Linked DNA regions of Homo sapiens: all the other regions are reported to be linked to region 1. Evidence: microRNA targets listed by miRTarBase, many of them from high-throughput screens and not tested one by one. Region 1 holds a microRNA gene; each other region holds the end of a gene's coding sequence. Distances are from middle to middle.

Evidence for each region. The annotated mature microRNA hsa-miR-106a-3p reads CUGCAAUGUAAGCACUUCUUAC and lies in region 1 at 3,677-3,698, opposite strand. An mRNA with a match to its seed (bases 2 to 7 or 8) in the 3' UTR can be bound and repressed. Matches are read on the target gene's strand: a 7mer-m8 pairs with bases 2 to 8, a 7mer-A1 pairs with bases 2 to 7 and ends in A, and an 8mer does both.
Region 2: the mRNA of LILRA2 is a reported target of hsa-miR-106a-3p. Seed matches in the 3' UTR shown: 7mer-m8 at 1,931-1,937.
Region 3: miRTarBase lists AAGAB as a target of hsa-miR-106a-3p. Seed matches in the 3' UTR shown: 7mer-A1 at 2,665-2,671.
Region 4: the mRNA of FAM9C is a reported target of hsa-miR-106a-3p. The part of its 3' UTR that is shown has no 7-base or 8-base seed match.

Annotation. Positions count from the first base shown.
Region 1 is chrX:134,166,532-134,171,685 of GRCh38, forward strand. MIR106A (microRNA 106a) reads right to left here and starts at 3,747; the gene lies at 3,667-3,747. It overlaps MIR106AHG (miR-106a-363 cluster host gene), which reads right to left. Exons shown (of 2, transcript XR_007068340.1): 1 at 5,138-5,154; 2 at 2,619-3,821. MIR363 (microRNA 363) reads right to left here and starts at 2,921; the gene lies at 2,847-2,921. MIR92A2 (microRNA 92a-2) reads right to left here and starts at 3,081; the gene lies at 3,007-3,081. It also overlaps MIR19B2, MIR20B, MIR18B and the pseudogene TIMM8BP2.
Region 2 is chr19:54,586,245-54,591,398 of GRCh38, reverse strand. LILRA2 (leukocyte immunoglobulin like receptor A2) reads right to left here. Exons shown (of 8, transcript NM_001130917.3): 7 at 4,339-4,389; 8 at 1,112-4,198. The coding sequence ends at 4,053. Among named protein-coding and RNA genes, the nearest start is that of LILRA1, 4.8 kb to the left of the region's middle.
Region 3 is chr15:67,198,707-67,203,860 of GRCh38, reverse strand. It overlaps AAGAB (alpha and gamma adaptin binding protein), which reads left to right. Exons shown (of 10, transcript NM_024666.5): 9 at 264-313; 10 at 963-3,194. The coding sequence ends at 1,040. Among named protein-coding and RNA genes, the nearest start is that of AAGAB, 53 kb to the left of the region's middle. RefSeq lists an enhancer at 5,046-5,154.
Region 4 is chrX:13,033,656-13,038,809 of GRCh38, reverse strand. FAM9C (family with sequence similarity 9 member C) reads left to right here. Exons shown (of 8, transcript NM_174901.6): 7 at 307-394; 8 at 2,792-3,193. The coding sequence ends at 369. Among named protein-coding and RNA genes, the nearest start is that of FAM9C, 8.4 kb to the left of the region's middle.

The DNA of each region.
Region 1 (5,154 bases):
TAAAAATGAGCAAGCTATATATGTCGTATGTAGATATTACTAATTTTGCCCATGATTAATGACTTAAATTAACCCATTCCCAAGTATTCTAGACAAATGACTTCAATGCAAAACACTTGAAGAATTATTGGATAAGTCTGAGGTGAACAAAGGCGGAGCTGGGTGAAGCCGATGGAGCGGAGTTGCAGCACCTGGTGGCCGCCGAACAGCAGAAGGCGCAGTTTACTGCACAGGTGCATCACTTCATGGAGTTATGTTGGGATAAATGTGTGGAGAAGCCAGGGAATCGCCTGGACTCTTGCACTGAAAATTGTCTCTCCAGCTGTGTAGACCACTTCATTGACACCACTCTTGCCATCACCAGTCGGTTTGCCCAGATTGTACAGAAAGGAGGGCAGTAGGCCATCCCCCAGGAGAATGACAGAAGCAAAGGACTTATTATTAAGCAGACTTAAGGGCCAGTGGGGGAAGGCTGTCAACCCATTGTCAGATCAGCATCAGGCTGTTATCAAGTCTGTTGGTCCTAAAAAGTAAAAGATGAAATGTTCAAAAAAAAAAAAAAAAGAATTATTGGATTAGTCTAACTTGAGCAAATATAGAATCAGAATTTTTGAAGCTAGAAAGGGTCCTCAGATCATCAAGTTCGGCCCTAACTTTAGGTGAGGGAATTGACTCTAGTGGGCAGAGTGGCCTACCCTAAGGAACACAGCTCCTCCACACAAGCCTATTAAAAGTGGAAACTGCAATAACTGACTGCATACTAGCCACGTTAGGTAAAGCACCAGTGAACCACTAGGACAATAAATTTGTATTATTAAAGTGGAGGTTTGGTGGTGTTAAGGATTACAACAAATAAGCTTTAATCCCCTCTTTTACTGAGCTACTTTATTAAAGGGCGGGAGACCCTTTTCTTTGCTGCCACATCAAACTTAACTATGATTAGGCACCAACAACGTAGTCAGCACTAGACAACACAGGAAATACCTGTAGTTATTTATGTTTGTATAATTGCCTCAAGCATTAGTCACTTTTAAAAAATTACACACACATACTTAATACTGGACGACAGAATTTACTACCCTAAGTCTCTTTTCATTAAGATTTCACTTCATCACTAACAATTAAAATCCATCCCCCCAGCCGCCACCACCAGAGAACTTACTTAACCCACATATCCTTGAGGTAGACCAATGTTATCACTGTATTTCCCCTAATGAGGAAATTGAAGCCTTAGGCAACTAGCTCAAGATTAAAATGCAATTCAGAGAGAGTTCCTCTTACTGATTAAAATGGACTGATGTTATGAGGAAAAATCAAAAGGGTTTCAAAATTAGAAAATTCCATGGCACCAGGAAGTAAGAATGACACATACTGATACCATCTTTTAGTTTGGCAGCACCTTTTTGATGAGAACTAAATGTTCATGTTGGCAGACAGTAAAACTACCACAAGCCTCGTTTCTTCATTTGCCAAATACATGATGTTAAAGATTAACATTAAAATATGAAACATAGAACTGGAAAGCAAGCCAGTCCCTGCTTCGAGTTCTTTTAATTTTATGAAGTTTAAAATAAACAACTTCCTTTGTTAACTTTGTCCTAGAAGCTGTCGTTAGCTGTTTTCGAGCAGTGGTTCTGCAAGTATGGTGTCTTGACCAGCAGCATCAGCTCCTAGGGAAAGGTTAGAAATGCAATTCCTTACCTGTAATGCCAGCACTTTGGGAGGCCAAGGTGGGTGGATCTCTTGAGGTCAGGAGTTCGAGACCAGCCTGACCAACATGGTGAAACCCCGTCTCTACTAAAAGTACAGAATTAGCCAAGCGTGGTGGCGCACGCCTGTAATCCCAGCTACTCAGGAGGCTGAGGCAGGAGAATCACTTCAACCCGGAAGGTGGAGGTTGTGGTGAATGAGAGATCGGGCCATTGCACTCCAGTCTGGGCAACAAGAGCGAAACTCCGTCTCAAAAAGAAAAAAATAAAGAAATGCAATTCCTTAGGCCCCATCCAGACCTATTGAATGAATCTCTGGAGATGGGGTTGGCTGGCTGTGTCTTAGTAAGTGCTAAAGTTTTAAGAACCACTAGAGGATCCAAATAACTTTTGGTGTTCAGTCTCAAACCACTAATTAGCTGCGCATGAGAAATTTCTGCTTTAGGTTAGTCACCCTATGGAGCCCCCGAACCCTAAATATTAACAGTAGGCCCACATCCAGGTTTCCATCTGCTAGACTCCAAAGCAAGGCAGCAGCCATCCCTCTCAGTAGCCCTGCCACCAAATCCTCTTCTCCGAGAACCCCAAAACAGAGTTTGATTGACAAGTTCATTCTTCTCTCCTGTCAGACCTCAAAATGTGCCCAGTTCCTTAAAGGTATGTGTCCCATTGGTTTACAACTCTTCATTCCCTTCCTAAGAATGAGCACGTGTACTAAAACAAAATTAGTACATGTCATCCAAATATTGTCAGGGTAATAAAATTCCTAAAATTAGGCATCTTGGTGCTTTATGTAGATGCAAACTTGAAAAGCAGCTATGTCCAAGTTTTCCTTTAGGATCCTCCCAAGAGATATTTTACAAACTCCTCTAGCATTGCTAATTATTTTTTTTAAAAAAAAAAGAGTCATTTTTTCAGATCTATAAATTTCATTTATTTTGAGGTTCATTCACATTCAGTAACAATCTGATCATTCACCAAAGTTCCAAAACACATACTTTATAAATTAGCTATCATAGTTTTTAGAAATCCAAATATATTTCAAATTATTTTTTAATAGCAGCAACTAGAGAAAGGATTTTTTACCATCTAGCTTACTGTAGCGCTGATCAGGAATGTCGCCAACAAAGGTCCTGCGGTTTACAGATGGATACCGTGCAATTTTTCTCCTATGATACTCATCAAAATTGCATCGTGATCCACCCGACAACAGCAAAACAGATCATTTTACAATGACTAAATATCAGAACTTACGGCTTTTAAAAGTTAAAATAAGAAGACGATAAAAATCCTCCTTTCTTCCACAGGCCGGGACAAGTGCAATACTTTATATAGAACACAAGTAATGCAACAAATCCCCACCCAGGGATGAATGGGCATGAGTGCTGGAGATACGCATGAAGGTGTGTTCACACAGACGTAGGAAGCACACATTATCACAATCAGTTTTGCATGGATTTGCACAGCCACATATACATATATACGCTGAAATGCAAACCTGCAAAACTAATTGTAAGTAGCAATGTCTTTGAATATTCTCTCCATCAACAAGAGATTTGTTATCCAAGAGTACTGGAAGTGCCCATACTACAGTAGAGTCATGCCAAAACTACCTGCACTATGAGCACTTTGGTACTACTAGGACCCAATCTTATCCTCTGTACACAACTGTACACTGCACAGTCCCCACCATCTGTTCCCAACAAACAATAAAAAGGCAAAAAACAAACCACTGAAATGTGTCCTATTCAAATTACTACTCAAGGCATACTTTTAAAATGCTGTATATTAGGCAGCCTGTGCCAGAAGGGGCATTTAGGGCAGTAGATTCTAAGCTGCTTCACTAACTGCACTAGATGCACCTTAACACAAGAGACACATTATAAGAAGCAGCTCAAAAGCATCAACTACTTAATTATGCACAAACTACAGTTCTCAGTAGCCATTGACTAAATCACCATGGTAATGTAAGAAGTGCTTACATTGCAGTAGATCTCAAAAAGCTACCTGCACTGTAAGCACTTTTACATGGCCAAGGCCTATTCCTGTAGCAAAATTTTAAGTCTTCCAGGAGCTCTTCTTTTCCGTCCTCACAGATCCATGCAGACTCACCTGGTTAAAACAACAAAACAAACACACACATATTAGAAACTAAACAAGTAAACTACTAGTTAATATTCCTGAAACAGGCTTTCCTTTGGCTTACAGAGTCTAAGCTAGGTTTTGTGGTTTCAACCAAATCCTGAGAAATATTAATAATCTCAATTATTTACACAGAATTGAACACGAATAACACTGGCAACTGCAAAAAGTCCAATTCTTATGTATAAGCAGATTTTGGACTCCCCCTCTCCATCTAAGAAAATTTGATATCTGCATCTCAGTAATTTGCAGGCACATTCTATCCACCCTGATTTTATAAGAGGAGGACCTAGAGAAAGGAGCATGTAAAACCCAGGATGAGTATTCGAGTCTTCAGATCATTCAGAGCTTTTGGGCTCCATACGGAAAGTGACTGTTAGATTAAATGAATATTCCCAGCCCCCACCCCATTAATAGAAAATGAGAGAAATTTTAGAGCTGGTTTAAGAAACACAGCCTTACAGTCTTCACATAATGCACAGATGGCTGAGAGATGTCACATTTTGATCTATTTCAAAGGGCTCTACTTCTGTTTAAACATTTATGGACCCATTTTCTCCATTAAACCAAAGTAGGCAGATTAGCTCTTCTTCCCTTCATGTCATTATCTTCCATAAGAAAACCTTCTCCCATTTCCAAGTGCTTATTTTACCTAAGAACATACAGCAAGGAAGTGAGCCTCTATGTGAAAAAGGCTCACAGGGTCCCCTATCTCTTCCATGATGGGGTAACTTTTGTTTAAAAGAAAAACAAAAACGTTTGGGACAGAATCTGTAATACGTTAAACGAGTGAGGGAATTTTAAATGTTGAACTTTCGTCACGATATCTTATGCCACTAAATGAGTCTTTAGAAGTCTTTACAAACTAAACTGATTTATAAAACTTATACATCAATCTGGAATCAATTTTCTATTAGGGAAGAATGGATTTAGTATAGAAATGAGAAAAATAACATTTTTCCCCTTAAATTGGGTTTCTACACCTGTGAAGATTTCTTTTCCATTAAAAAAAAAATACTCCAAACTTGACTCAAAATGCATAGTATTTGCCAACCCAACCTGGCCAAACTGAGCCCCACAGCCATCAGACAGGGCGCCCTTCTAGTTACTACCTTTTGCTAATTAGCGGTTCATCTGGCATCCCTCGCGCACGCTGGGCAGTCACTCTCCAATCCCCTTAAATTGCAAATAATAATAATAATAATAAGGAAAAGAAAGAAAGAAGTCCTTCCCTGTACGCCTTTGTGGCTCCCTTTTGCCTCTTCCCGCGTCTCTCACACCCTTACCTAATGCTCCCGTTGAA
Region 2 (5,154 bases), not on the chromosome of region 1:
TGCTTAGAAGCAGAGTTCCCTGGTTCCAGAGGTTCAAAGCCAGAGTTGCTGTCAGTCCATTGGAGGAGATGCCATTGCTGGGCAAGTATTCTCTCGAGAGCAGCCTATCTGCATTCCTGATGTCCTAAAGAATATCTAGTAATAAACCATGTCAAAGCAGGAGAGGGGTGAAAGACATGGAAGAGTTTCTTATGGGGTTTTTAAAAAAGTCCTTAGAAACAGTTCTTATCTGAGACCTGGCAACACGAGCCTCCTCTCCGTCAGGCCTTCCTGGCCCTGTGGGGTCTGAGTTTAACCAAAGTCATCTCATCCTTGCTCATGTGACTTTCCTACTGGGTATCTGCAGTGAAGGGATTGAGTTACAAAGTTTAACCTGAGCGTTTCAGGAGTTTGGTTCAGGGCAGGGTTTGTTTCTACATAATTAACAAAGGGTTAATTTTTCAGTGTTTTCTAGAAACAATCTAAGGTGCTTTATCAGTACCTGGGAATGCTCAAGACCTCAGCTTGAGTTCAAGCCTGCAGGTGAAAACAGGCATCTGTCCAGCCCACAGAGCAGTCATGGCACTTTGTCTTTCTCTCAGAACAAAGGAAAAAGTGGAGGAAACCGTGGGATCCTAGAGAGACTGTGGCTCCCTCTCTTCTGTATTTGTGGACAGAATCTGGGATTGCTTGGTTTGGTGACCCAGGCCACATTCAGCACTGAGCCACCTTCCCGGGTGTGCATGACACAGTCTCGCTTTATCACTGCTGGACCGGGCATCTTTGGCACTTGAATGTGAGGGTCTCATGGGCTCCACCATGCCAGGCATAACACAGAGCTGATTCTAAACTTGGGAGCATGGACACCGCAGGGCAGGAGCGGGTACAAAAATGCCCCTCATCAGTTTTCCTTCCTGAGTCATCCCTGGGAGAAACCCTGTATGGAAGATCAGGTGTGTGGGAGAAAAACCCACCCCAGAGGAATAAAAATCGAAGAGTCCATTAGAGAAAAAACAGGCAATTATAGAAATGAATTAGGAAGCTATTGTGATGTGAAAATAGTAAATTATATTAACACATTTAGAAATACTTTCATCAAGAACCAGACACTGCTGAAATGATAAACATTGTATTGGTGTAGAATATTTATTAAATTTTTCATTAGTCATCGGAGAAAAACTAGAAATGAAAAAAATAGAAAAGATAATTAATGCACACAAAGAATAGAGTGAGAAGAGGAAACAGATATATCTCTATGTGTCACACTTTCAGAATGAAGGAAATAAGGAGTATGTTAGTCAATAAATACTTGCAAAGGAAATAGTTGACATTTTTACAGAAATGAAAGATCATGAGTTTAATGTGCACAAATTCATAAATAACATTAATGTCTTAACTATGATAGAGCAAACGATATCTAGAATAGATACAAAGTAATTTTAAAACTACTGGAGAAAATGAAAATTATTCTCAAATGAATGACAAGCACATTGGGACTGAGTTTCCCAGGACTGAAAAGTGGTAGAAAAAATGATCGGGGGCTCAGGTTCAGGTTGGATGAATGGAAACAGCTGGCATGTGCCTGTCTCGTTAAGAGGAGTCAAAATGGTGAGTAAATACCGAAATTCTAAGTGGATCTTCTAGGACAGCATGATGGGGCTCACCAGAGAACCACAGGGACATGGAAAGCACAGAGGAGAAAAGCTGATAGGCAGGAGAGCCTCCGAACAAGGAGACGGGGTGAGTGTATTAGTCTAGGTTCCCTAGAGGGAGATAACTAATTTTAAGCCTTTTGATTTATGATACTGGGATGACTTTTTCCTCATTTAGGTCTTTTGTTATTTCTTTGAGCAGTATTTTAAAATTGTCAATGTATACGTATTGCATCTCTTTGGTTAAATGTATTTCTCTTTTTTTGAGACAGAGTCTCACTCTGTTGCCCAGGCTGGAGTGCAATGGCAAGATCTCAGCTCACTGCAACCTCTGTTTCCTGGGTTGACGCGATTCTCCTGTCTCAGCCTCCTGAGTAGCTGGGATTACAGGCGTGTACCACCACACCCACCTAATTTTTGTATTTGGTTAAATGTATTTCTATGCATACTTTTCTTGTAGACACTGTCATAAATTGACTTGTTCCCCCTAATATACACGTTGAAATCCTGAGCCCCATTAGCTATAAATGTGAACATAGTTGGAAATAGAGTCTTTGCAAATGCATTTAAGTTATGATCAAGGGATCATAACGAATTAGGATGAGTCCTAATCTGATCTGAGTGATATCATAATCTGAAGAAGAGAAAAGACACACACAGAAGAATGGGTGTGAAGACAGAGGCAACCAGGTAGGTGTAAGCATTGAGAAGATGGAGGCAGAAACTGGTGGGATGCTGCCCCAAGCCAAGGAGTGCCTGGACCAGCAGAAAGTAGAACGAGTCATTTAAGAATTCTTCCATCAGCCGGGCACAGTGGCTTACACCTGTAATCCCAGCACTCTGGGAGGCTGAGGCAGGTGGATAACCTGAGGTCAGGAGTTCAAGACCAGCCTCACTAACATGGCGAGACCCCCGTCTCTACTAAAAATACAAAAAATAGCCGGGAATGGTGGTGCACACCTGTAGTCCAGTAACTCGGGAGGCAGAGGCAGGAGAATTGCTTGAACCTGGGAAGTGGAGGTTGCAGTGAGCCGAGATTGCACCATTGCACTCCAGCCTGGGCAACAAAGCAAAACTCCATCTCAAAAAAAATTCTTTCATCGAAACTGCATAGTTCTGTTAACATTTTTCTTATGTTGTACTTGGATTTTTTTTTTTTTTTGAGACGGAGTCTTGCTCTGTCGCCCAGGCTGGAGGGCAGTGTCGCAATCTCGGCCCATTGCAAGCTCCGCCTCCCAGGTTCACGCCATTCTCCTGCCTCAGCCTCCTGAGTAGCTGGGACTACAGGCGCCCACCACCACGCCCGGCCAATATTTTTTTGTGTATTTAGTAGAGACGGGGTTTCACCATGTTAGCCAGGATGGTCTAGATCTCCTGACCTCGTGATCTGCCTGCCTTGGCCTCCCAAAGTGCTGGGATTACAGGCGTGAGCCACCGCGCCCGGCATGTACTTTGATTTTTAGGTGAGCCGTGTTATCTCCCACATCAGATATTAATAGGTTTGTCTTTTGTGGATATGCTAGGATAACAGTGTCAGAATTTCATTTGACCTGTGCCATAACACTGAAGTAGAAGTGATCATTGCCTCTGAAATAGAAAGGACTGTAGGTATATGGGTGAGCTCTCAGTGGGATGTGCCACAGGTCCCTGGTGCTCATTAGTGAAGACAGTTCTGTCCCTTGCTTCCCAACCCTGTATTCAGTGAGAACCCATTGGCACCTTGATTTGGGCCATGAGAAAAATATTTATGTCACAGAAATTGGTAGATACCACTAATTACAGTATTTTAGAGATGTCTTTTTCTGAATCAGCATAGCTGTGGTGTCACTTGAAATGCCAGTGTGATGATTCCAAGTGGTGATATTTCAGGAGAAATTACACAGATAGCATCTGAGAAAGAGGGAAGGGCTCATAAGGTACAGAGAGGGTGTCAGGGCAGCAGGGTGGATTTATGTTTTCCTGGTTGGAATCTGATCTCCTGTCGTTGATTTAGTTGGTGGTTCAGGTTTGGATCTCTGAACTGAAGAGACGGGGACTCAGTAAGTGACATCAAGGAGTGTGACAATGAGGAATAAGGAAGACTGTGTCACATGCCGTGGACCAGAGCACACAGGTGTGTGGAGGTGTGGACCCAACGGTGCCATGTGGGATGGAGCCTCATGTCTGGGGATGGGAAAAAAAGGGGATCCAGTCAAGGGAAGTCAACATTCATAGACAAAAAAATGTACCACAGTTTAATGATCTTCTAGGAATCACCCCAGACAGTTTCCTTACACTCAAATATTGATTGCTGTCTCTAGAAATGACCAGCATACAGTCCAGATAATGTAGGTCCTAGATTGTCCTCCAGAGCCTCCTGGGATCATCAGATCTGTCCCTGAGGCTCCACCACGCTGAAGGATGCATTGTCCTCTCTGCTGTTCACCTCCCGGCTGCATCTTGTAGGCTTCTCTGGCTGTGCTGAGCCTCAAATAGCAGAATCCCGAGGACCACCAGGACCAAGCCAGCCACACCCATGCGGATGAGATTCTCCACTGTGTAATCCTGGGGGTGTTGGCCTAGGGATGCTGGACAAAGAGGTCACAGAGGTCAGGGCAGATCGGAATCACCCCGGGACTCCTGTATGTCCACCCAGGGCACCCACCTCCCCTTTACAGGACCTGACCCTCTGTGCCAGTCCCATAACTGAGAGCATCTCCTCACTCACTAGTCGTGGAGTCTGTCTTGTTTTGTGATGGGCTGAGGGTCTCAGCTGCTTCTGAGAATCAAAACAGTGGAGAAGAGCCCTGAGCCCAGCCTCACTCCTGGGCTCTGCATTCTTCTTTTCCCCTGTGTCTCTTGACATGAGTTTTATGGAGTTCCTCAATAAACCCTTCCTCTGCTGTAGCAGGGTTCCCTCCAGTCTCCTCATTGAATTATTTCAGACTTCCTGTGTTCTACAAATCCAAACTCAGCTCCTGAGTCATTTGGGAGAGTTTTCCTGCATCCCGGGAGCTCAGCATGGATATGGTAAGTGGTCCCCAATACAGAAATAACCAGGACCTTATGTGCTCTCTGTGCAGCCTGGGACCTTGTGTGCTCTCTGTGTCCTCTCTGAGCCCTAACTGGCTGCAAGGAGCAGGTGCAGGACCACAGAAGCCAATGCTCCCCAGAGATGAGTTTCACGGATCCGCCAGCTGAGGACCCAGGCTCCATGGAGGAGGGGTTGGACCTCAGGGGCTCTTGAATGTCAGGAACACAAAGGGGTGAAAGTCTGGGTCTGCCTCCCCTTCATGCCCTCAACCACTTCACCTGGGGTTTCATCTTCCGTTTAATCCTTAGGTAACTAATTCCTCATACAGGCAGTAACCCCTAGAATGCAATACACGTGCATGCACACCCACCCACACACACAAATATGCATATGTTAAATGCTGGTGCTATCCGAGGTTCATAAATGAATACTTCTGCTCCAGCAAGTGTGAGTCTAGATAAGAAGACCAATAACAAACCTGTAAAGACCTGTCATGTCAAATATGTGAAG
Region 3 (5,154 bases), not on the chromosome of region 1:
TCGTTCTCTTTCTTTTTACTTTTCCTGCTTTTGCCTTGTTTCTTTCAATGTGTTACATAAGGTGGAAACTGTAAGATCCCTACCAATTTACTCACATCATTCCCATCTGGAAAATTTGGAAGACTTAAAAACTTCCTAATACATGTAATGACTACATCATAAACATGTCTTTGAAACCCGTCTCCCATCTTCTAGTGTTATTCATATACTCCAGGTTATCCTGTGCTATTAGACAAATTTCTTAAGATATATTTTCCCCCTAGACAAGGCTGCGACGCTTCCTCATGAGCAAAGAAAAGTGCATGCAGAAAAGGTGAGACAATCAGCCAGGTATTTATTGAATACCTATAAAAGGTCCAGTGCTATTATTATAATTATATATCACACTTGTGTATTTCTGAAGGGTCTTAGTGTGAGCTTTTCATTGAATATTAACTTCTAACTAATTAAATATTTATACAGTAATAGTATAGTTGCTGCAGTCAAACCAAGATTTTTCACCTGGATGGTGAGTGATGTGGAACCTTTATTGAGACTCAGGATGTTTGCCTTTCTAACTATTGGGCCAGAAAACTCTTAGTTGTTTTGTTTTATTATTACCAACACAACACATGCTATTGGCAGGAAACTTGTATGGTTGATGGTGTTCCCTGATATGTGTCATAATTTATCCTGTTCCCTTTTGGACATTTAGGTCATGTGCATTTTTTGCTTCTATAAATAACAAAGCTGTGCATGTCTTTACACATCATCTTTGTATACAACTCTAAATATATCCTTGGTATAAATTTCTAGATGTGGCGATCATGGGTCAAATGGTATTCAAGGGTTCTGATATGTGTTGCCAGAGGACTGGAGGGCAAAGTGCAGAATTTTAGGTCTCAGTCAGTTTAAGGTATGACATATGAAACAAGCTGAAATGTAGCTGTTGCCTAAAATTTGTTGCATGCTTCTCTCCACAGGTGGCCAAAGCATTCTGGATGGCAATCGGGGGAGACAGAGATGAAATTGAAGGCCTTTCATCTGATGAAGAGCACTGAATTATTCATACTAGGGTTTGACCAACAAAGATGCTAGCTGTCTCTGAGATACCTCTCTACTCAGCCCAGTCATATTTTGCCAAAATTGCCCTTATCATGTTGGCTGCCTGACTTGTTTATAGGGTCCCCTTAATTTTAGTTTTTAGTAGGAGGTTAAGGAGAAATCTTTTTTTTCCTCAGTATATTGTAAGAGAGTGAGGAATACAGTGATAGTAATGAGTGAGGATTTCTTAAATATACTTTTTTTTTGTTCTAGGAATGAGGGTAGGATAAATCTCAGAGGTCTGTGTGATTTACTCAAGTTGAAGACAACCTCCAGGCCATTCCTGGTCAACCTTTTAAGTAGCATTTCCAGCATTCACACTTGATACTGCACATCAGGAGTTGTGTCACCTTTCCTGGGTGATTTGGGTTTTCTCCATTCAAGGAGCTTGTAGCTCTGAGCTATGATGCTTTTATTGGGAGGAAAGGAGGCAGCTGCAGAATTGATGTGAGCTATGTGGGGCCGAAGTCTCAGCCCGCAGCTAAGTCTCTACCTAAGAAAATGCCTCTGGGCATTCTTTTGAAGTATAGTGTCTGAGCTCATGCTAGAAAGAATCAAAAAGCCAGTGTGGATTTTTAGACTGTAATAAATGAGGCAAAGGATTTCTATTCCAGTGGGAAGAAAACCTCTCTACTGAGTTGTGGGGGATATGTTGTATGTTAGAGAGAACCTTAAGGAGTCCTTGTATGGGCCATGGAGACAGTATGTGATAACATACCGTGATTTTCATGAAGAAATTCTTCTGTCTTAGAGTTCTCCCCTGCTGCTTGAGATGCCAGAGCTGTGTTGTTGCACACCTGCAAAACAAGGCACATTTCCCCCTTTCTCTTTAAAGCCAAAGAGAGATCACTGCCAAAGTGGGAGCACTAAGGGGTGGGTGGGGAAGTGAAATGTTAGGCGATGAATTCCTGAGCACCTTGTTTTTCTTCCAAGGTTCGTAGCTCCTCTCTGCCCTTCCAAGCCTGTAACCTCGGAGGACTATCTTTTGTTCTTTATCCTTTGTCTTGTTTGAGTGGGTCAGCCCCAGAGGAACTGATAAGCAAATGGCAAGTTTTTAAAGGAAGAGTGGAAAGTACTGCAAATAAAAATCCTTATTTGTTTTTGTAGACTTTGTAATGCATATCATTAGCCCTCACTGTGATCATTACTGCTGTGGCTCTGAACTGGCACATAGTACAGTGGATGGAAGGTGCCCGCACACCAGCTGAGAACTGGTTCTGGCCTAGGTGGGCTCTAGAACCATTTACACAGCATGAAAGAAACAGGTTGGGTTAGGAGCAGAAAGAAATAAGGCTCACACCCCTCCAGACACTACCTTATAAGCACTGCAGAACCTGAAACAGATGGCAGAAGGAATGGAATGCTACAGGGGCCAGCAGGAGTGACCACAGGGAGGGGACAGCTCAGTGACTGGAGCATTCAGGAAGAGGCTTTCCAGGGAACACTGGACATTGCTTAGTGACCTTTTGTTCCTTTTTTTTTTTTTTTCTTTTACTGTTCTGAAAGACTTTGAGTCTGTGGTTCACCACCAGCCCATCAGTGTTTCTTTGAGGTGATTGCATTAGGGAAGTTGGCTCTGGGATTGCAAAAAAAAAAAAAAGGTGGAACATGTTTTCCTTAAAAGATGGAAGGTTTTAGAAAATATACTAGGCCATCTGGTTAGAAAAAACAGACCAGACTAGAAAAAGCTGTGAATTTGATTTTGTAGATTAAACAAAGCCAGATGATTAAAATGTGATTTATTTATAAACTGTGCTAATGTCTATTATTATGATTTTGTGGTTTTTTATTAGGGGGTATGAGTGAGGGAAGCCCTATATCCTTCATTGGATTAGACATATATAGTGAATAGTGGAAGAGTCTGTCAAGCTCACTATTTTAGAATTTACCCTGCATATGTAATGTCATGTTTTTAAGACCTCAGCTATGCAGGGATATTGGCCTCTTCTAGGGACATATGGGATGAAGGTCTCTAGTGAAATCTACTAAAAGCCCATGTTAGAATAGTGATCATGAGCTAACACTACAGTAATAGCTGCAGTCTATCTAAAGTGACCTATGTTCATGCTACCACAAGTTGTTACAGAATTGCCAGCTGGAATTTAAAATAAGAGACTTGGTTTTTGGTTGTTTTTTCCTTAAACATTTCTTGATTTGCATAACATAGTGTTTGGCACATAGTGTTTGGCACATAGTAGGCCCTTAGTTTTGGTTGTAAAGTATGGTTTGTGTTTGATGAATATGATCACAAAGTTTGAAGGTCCATACATAAGTGCTGGAAGGTAAGGGAAGACAAGAATAAACATTTTTCCCCTGAGAAAATCATGTGTTATGTAATAATTTTAGAGTGATGAAGACATAGATATTTTTATAATTTTAAAATATGCCATCTTGCCAGAGTATGAGAAGATTGACAGAACCAGTTTGCTTGCTCTCTATTTATAGAACTTGGCCACGTCTAATTCAGAGAAGCTAGAGATTCAGGGAAGCTAGACTTAGATGGTTGAGTAATATGGGATGTGGTTCAAGGACCATAGAGCATGTTAGGCCATTCCTGCAAACTACTTCTAACACGTGAAATGTGATATATGGCTAATTTCCTGGTCCCACTGTGGAGAGGTCGGGATCAACATTTTTGCCATGGCTTGTCAGATTCATTTAACCTTGGGCCAGTCTCTTAACAATGGGCGTTGAGAGAGCATGTGGAATGCCCCTTGCCTTGCCTTGGCCTGCCATGGAAAAGCAGTCTTAGAAGAATCACTGTCTAAGGGTAAGATGAGAGCTCTGTAAACTATTCTGAGCTTCAGCGTTTGCCGATACAAAGCTAAATTTAGCAAACGTGTCCAGTGTGGTCAGAGGTTCTGATTCATTAGGGGTTCTGATTCATTGAACGTTCTGATTGATGGAGACAAGAGTTTCAGTGAATGTTCTAATGCATTAGATTTGCTCTTCACTCTCTGCTGCCCCTGTTAATTTTACAATAGACAATTTAGCTACAGCATTATGTCATTAAGTACCAAATCTTATTAGAGGACTATAGGTGGAGTAAGTGTAAAAAAATCTGGTCATGTGTACTGAACCCAGTACTATGTTAGTACAAGGTTAGTTTGAAAACAACCCCGTTAACTTTCCCATAATTTGTATGTCTCATGAAAGTAGAATGCTGACTGTGCGGCATAATTCTAGTATTTTCGATTCCACTCAGGGTTTAGTGATCCATCCTGGCATCTTTGGCATGTAAGCTCTTACAGAAAACGTCTTAGAGATCCTGTAAAGTTCATACTTTGGCATTACATATGCCTGTTGTTAACATCACAAAGCTTGCTCTTAATGTAGGTATCCTTACTCAGAATTAGGTTCTAGCATAGGAAGTATCTTGCTCTATCCTAAGTTGTTCCTCTGGTTTGCAGAAGAATTAACAAAAAAGGTAACAGCAATAGCGTATTCCCACTCTTAGGGATTTACAGTTCTACTTTGTTTCCTTTTGAAAACATTGTGATTCAAAACCTGGCCCTAATGGTTATTACTGCATCTTTGGAACACAGGCCTGGGGGTGAAAAGAAAAAAAAAAACTTTTAAAACCCCTTTCTGTGTATCCATTGTTATGCCCAAACACTTCCTCCGCACAACTACAGATCTGGGAGGCATAACCAGGCACCCCAAGCTGCTTGCTTATGCCCAGTTTACTGACTAGGAAGCCTCTTGGGTTCTCTCTAATGAAGTGTCCAATCATTGCTCCTGCCCTTGCTATTATCAGCCAGGTGGCTTTAATGCTATTACACAAAAATGTGGACTAAGGCCTAGGGTAGGAACTTTATGGAAACAACAGCATAGTTTAGGAGAGAAAAGATTCTTTTAATCTGAATTCCAAGGACATGGCCTGCAACAATCATGCTTCCCCAGGAAATTCTCAGGAAGTCATTAATGGTGAAGTTAGACGGCCTTAAATTTGTTCCTTCTACCCTGGTGAGAGCAGAAACAAGAACCCAGGGTCCAGCCAACACTGACTGTGAACGTCGTTGGTGCCAGAATCTGAGCTAGGTGTGGCAGAGGACACAGACTTGAGTCAGG
Region 4 (5,154 bases), 120 Mb from region 1:
GATCTTACCTATCTGTGGTCAACAAATTATAGGAAGGGTCATCAAATACTCTTCATTTGAAATCAAGAATTAAGACGTATGTGTTGAATATGTATAAGAAAGAAAATTCTTTACTCCATGACTGATGAAAAAGGTTATTGTTTTAGCACATGAGTGGTGAACACAATTGTTTCAAATTGGTCATAAACGTTGTCTAAAAGAAAGTGTTCAGAAGTATTGATTTAAAGAGTATTTCTTTAATGCAGAATGTTTTATAAGTATTAAAATTTACCCAATTTTAATCACTTTTTTGTTTTGTGCCTCTAGAAAATATTTCAAGAGCAACAAAAGAGGTGGCAACAAGATGGGAAAGGAACTGAAAGAGATTGAGCCACCACACGAGCAATTCACAAAGGTCTGTTCTATTTGGTAACACAATACGTTCTTATAAAATACAACACATGCATAAAAATAGAAGACAATCTGCTTGTTTCTGAATGTATGGAAAGACATTTTGGTTATACATTTTAAATTACTTACCATTTTCACTTTGAATGTGTTGTTCCAGATTTAACATAAGTAGTAAATAACATAAAATAACATAAAACAGTATTTTTAGGATTCATGAATAGTTTTGTAGGAGTTATTTAGAACAGGAAAAGGTAAATTGGAAATTTTACCTAGAAATATACATCTTGTGTATAAAAATTGATACCTTATGAACACATTAATGAAGACTTTATTTTCAGTTTTTAGGAGATCAGCGACAAATCTTTAGTGGAAGGCAGAAAGTCCATAAGTCCTTTCTGGATGTCTTTTTTACTTGTGTTGTTTCAAGAGTTTTAGTTAAATAGGAAGTAGGCAAATGTAACTACTGAGTATCTCTTTTGTTTTCTGCTGTAATGTAGGAGTGTTTTATGGCATATTCACTTTCAAAATTATTAGTGACTAGTAATGGTTTTACATGACAATTTGTAATCATAAGAGATGGTTCAGATGTATAACAGAATGGGAAAGCCAGCAGATTATTAACATGTTGTGAATTGTGAATTATCTGCTGTCGTACAGCACATTAGCAAATTGTCATCGGACAATGACCGCTTCTTCATGTAGATGTATATTATTTAGGAAGCAATGGAATTCCCTTCTGGGAGGTAAGATATTCTTTTTAATAACCTTGTGGAAAGACATGTTCATATGTCACTCCTCTACACTAACTGAGATGTGTTAAATAAACTGGGAAAAGAGTTTGAAAATAGAATTTTCAAGCAACTCAAAGATTATCTATACACAAAACGGTTATTTATATAGAAGTCACAAGTAGAGAACATGTTGCTATAATGTTCCCCAGAAACCATTTATTAATTGGTATGAACATGAGACTAGAAAAGTTTTCCTGTCAATGTTAATGCTACATGTTACCACTTAGGGTAGGAACTTCGGTATCATCTTGGACTCTTCTGAGTCCATTATCTTTCACATACAGTTTTCATGAGGCAAGTTTTACTCTGCAATGGTCCTTAAATTTCTTTTTTTTAAATTGCCACTGAGGCAACCCTAGTTCAAGAACTCATTCTTCCTTGCTTGTACTATTAAACTCTTTTCTGAGTTCTCTCTTCTCTTCTGAGCCACCCTTCATTGATCAGAAATACTATCTTCCTAAAACTCTTCCCTTCCTAAAATGCTTCTAGCCCTTCACTCTTCCCAGCCTATCAGTGGTATCCACATGTCAGTTCTTAGATATTCAGAGACTCTCCCCTTTACATGACCCCCTCTTAGGCTTGTTTTACTGCCTTCTGTCTTTCTTCCCGCCTCTCCAGGTTGACAGCCTTCTCTGAACGACCTCTCCATTACTCTCATGCTTTGCTCATGCTCTTCCCTCACAATGCTTTTAAAGTCCTTTTTTTTTTTTGATCGATTGAAATCTTTTGCCAACTAAGTGGACATCAGTCTCCATTTTTGGCTACATGTCCGAGTGAGTTGCTCTTCCACAGCAGTTACATAAGTTTTGTATTATTTTTTTTATTCGTGCATATTTGCTCATGTCACAGGAATATGGAAGAGATTGTGTATTCATTTTTTACATCTTCCTCAGCATTAACATACCACTTTTTAGGGAGTAGGAACTGTTGAACTATTTGTTGAGAGAATAGTATATATTTCAAACATAGTTATGTTTTCTCTAACTTGATGAGGTCATGTCACAGACCATTTTATCCCTTCAGTGGAAACCATGTTATGTCGACTATTAGTGATAACAAATGGGTCACTATCTGGTGAAAAAATATGGTATTTCATGATCTAAGACTACCAGTCTTTTTCTGTTTTTGCTCCATCTTGACCATAACATATTCATCAAACCATTTTCTTCAAGCAAAGTACATGACTGTTGGACCTGCTATAATAATATTTCACTAAAATCTGGCATTAAAAATTTTAAGTATTTGGAGCTCCATGTACTGATTACAGTTTTTAAATTTGAAATAAATGACCAGCATCCTTTGAATATTAAAAGCTGTTTCCTTTTGACATTTAATTTACTCTCTTTAAAATGTGAGTTGTAAAGTGATGGTTTGTCAGTGAACTAGACTTTTTGTTTTAGAGTGTGAGGACTTGGAAGAGTATAATGAAAGCCCTCTTTTTGGTGAAGAGAGTCAACTTAAAAAATAAATTGCCATGTTCCAAAATAATATTGTGGTAATTGTAAGTAGTGCATATTTTATCTTAAAAACTCAGGATTGATGTAAGCACTGGAATATTTTATTTGTAGAAATGTGTATCGCAATTACTTAAATTTATTTTTTTGAAACAGCTGCAGCAAGAGTTGGCACTTATTCAGATGTATCTTCAACCTCTGTTATTCTGGTGACTGACAAAAGAACTTGAACCTATGTTATATGATACATGCATAACTTGAGCTACACTAAACCACATGACAGTGTTTAGTTAATTCTTGTATAAATTAGTATATCTCTTCTATTATTAGTCTGTTTGTTAAATGCCAGACCACGTTTCTATGATCTGTTGAATGAACCCTAGACAGTTCTGTGAGAAAGCAGCAATTGCACAGTTACATACACAGTCAATTAAATTTTAACATTAAAGATAATTTAGTTTTAGGTTTGGCCTCTGTGGATCTGTATCAGTTCCAAAATGTGGAAAGCACGGGCATGGAAAAGTACATTTTTCTCTAATAAAAGAAGACAAACCCTTATTTTATCTGTGCATTCTTTGTATTTACTCATTAAGTTAAAGAAGCAATTCCAATGAAAGCAAGACTTCAAAAAATAGATAAACTCTGTGGCCTTTCAAAATTATTAAAAGTACCTTAACATCTGTGTTCTTGAAAAAATTAAACTACTATAAATGATTGAGACAACTGAGCAAGATATATTAATATCAGTGCTGAGCCACCGGCTTCTGGGTATGTCATTTCCACAGACATCAAATTGCCATTTGGTTTGTTTTGGTCCACCATTCAGTGATATCTCCCCTTAACATTGATTCAAAGTATTTTATTAACATTTATGTATGCTTACAATTATTTCACATCTGTGGCAAGGTAAATTATGTAGGGTGCTTTGTTTTTCGAGTTTAGTATTTGTGGAGTATGTGGAAGTTTAAGTATACATGCATCTAAAAACTTAAGTGATGAATTCTCCTACCTTTCCTTTTGTAATGTGCAGTTGTTACATGTAACAACATACAAAATGTTCATTTGGAAACACTTTATTTAGTAAATATGAAATTCAGAATATATTTGGAGTAAGTCAGTTAAATGTATTCTTTTGCTGAGTTTCTGAAATTCCATTCATGAATTGTTCAAAACACAATACTCCCATTGGGAGGAGAGGAGCGACTTCCTCTCATTTTTCCTTGTGCTTTTTATTTTAATTGGCCCCTATATACCACTCTTGTTTTTCTAGGTTTTCCAAGTTTAAGAAAAAAAGAAAAACAAGTTCATTCAGATTCTGTTTTTCTGCCTGCAATCACTTATGCAGGAATAAGTGAGTCCTTATGGGGAGCATTTAATTCCTAAAGTTTGCATTTTCATAAAGGATTTTCCTTTTACCCAAAGCATGTGTTGGTGTATAAGTCTAACTACTACTTCAAGTTTCTAAGAAGATCCTCATTTGAGATCTGCAGAGGTCCATATGAGAGTTCTATTATACACACTGGGCTATATAACGGTTTATTCCATAGTGGAAGGACAAGAATTAGGACACAATGTACTTAGTGATGAAACAGTTGATATTTATGCCACCCCTTACCACCTCAAATGAGTAAAGGTGTACTTTAAGTCACTTTGGCAGATATTCTGAAGGGAAGAAAGTTTTTGTCCTTAAAAGTTATTAGGGGTGTGTGTATGTGTGTGTATAAATGTGTATATATATGTGTGTGTGTGTGTGTTTATGTATATATGCATTCCACGTATCTATACATATATAATATGCATATACGTATATGTGAATATATGCACACACATACACATATATATGACTTTATTTTTTAGAATTGTTTTTAGTTCACAACAAATTGATCTGAAGGTCTAGAGATTTCTCATTTACCCCCTGTTCTCCTACCATAGCCTTCCCCACTATCCATATCCCCCACCAGAGTGGTGCCTTTCTTACACCCCATGAACTTACATTGACATATCATTATCACCCCAAGTCCATAGATTACTTCACTGTTCACTCTTGGTTCCTTTTTTTTTTAGTGACTATTTTTCTCACATCACCTGTGCTATAGTCCCTGTTTTATTTTTCATAAAGAGAACATTTAATTTGTACTTTTTTGTGACCATGAAATTTTAGGTTAGAATATCAGAAACAAGTCACACTAAAACAAATGTAAAGATTCACTTTTCTCCCGAAAATGGTAAGACAGATAACATTTATTTATATATGCTTGAAACGTTGCAGTTAGTGCTTTTAAATTCTAGATTGAAGCACATATTTTCTTTTGTTCCATAATAAACGCCCCCTTTGAAGAATGGCTGATATCAAGAGCATCATGTCTCGTAATACTGTCTCACTCAACAGCTGAATGTTGAAATGTACACTCACAAAACACTAAATATATCCTTAGAACAATGATGTACTGAACAAAATTCAGAGTTCAAACGCAAAGACAGCTCCCAAGAAAGTTTTCCCACAGACCAGTGGCAAGTCC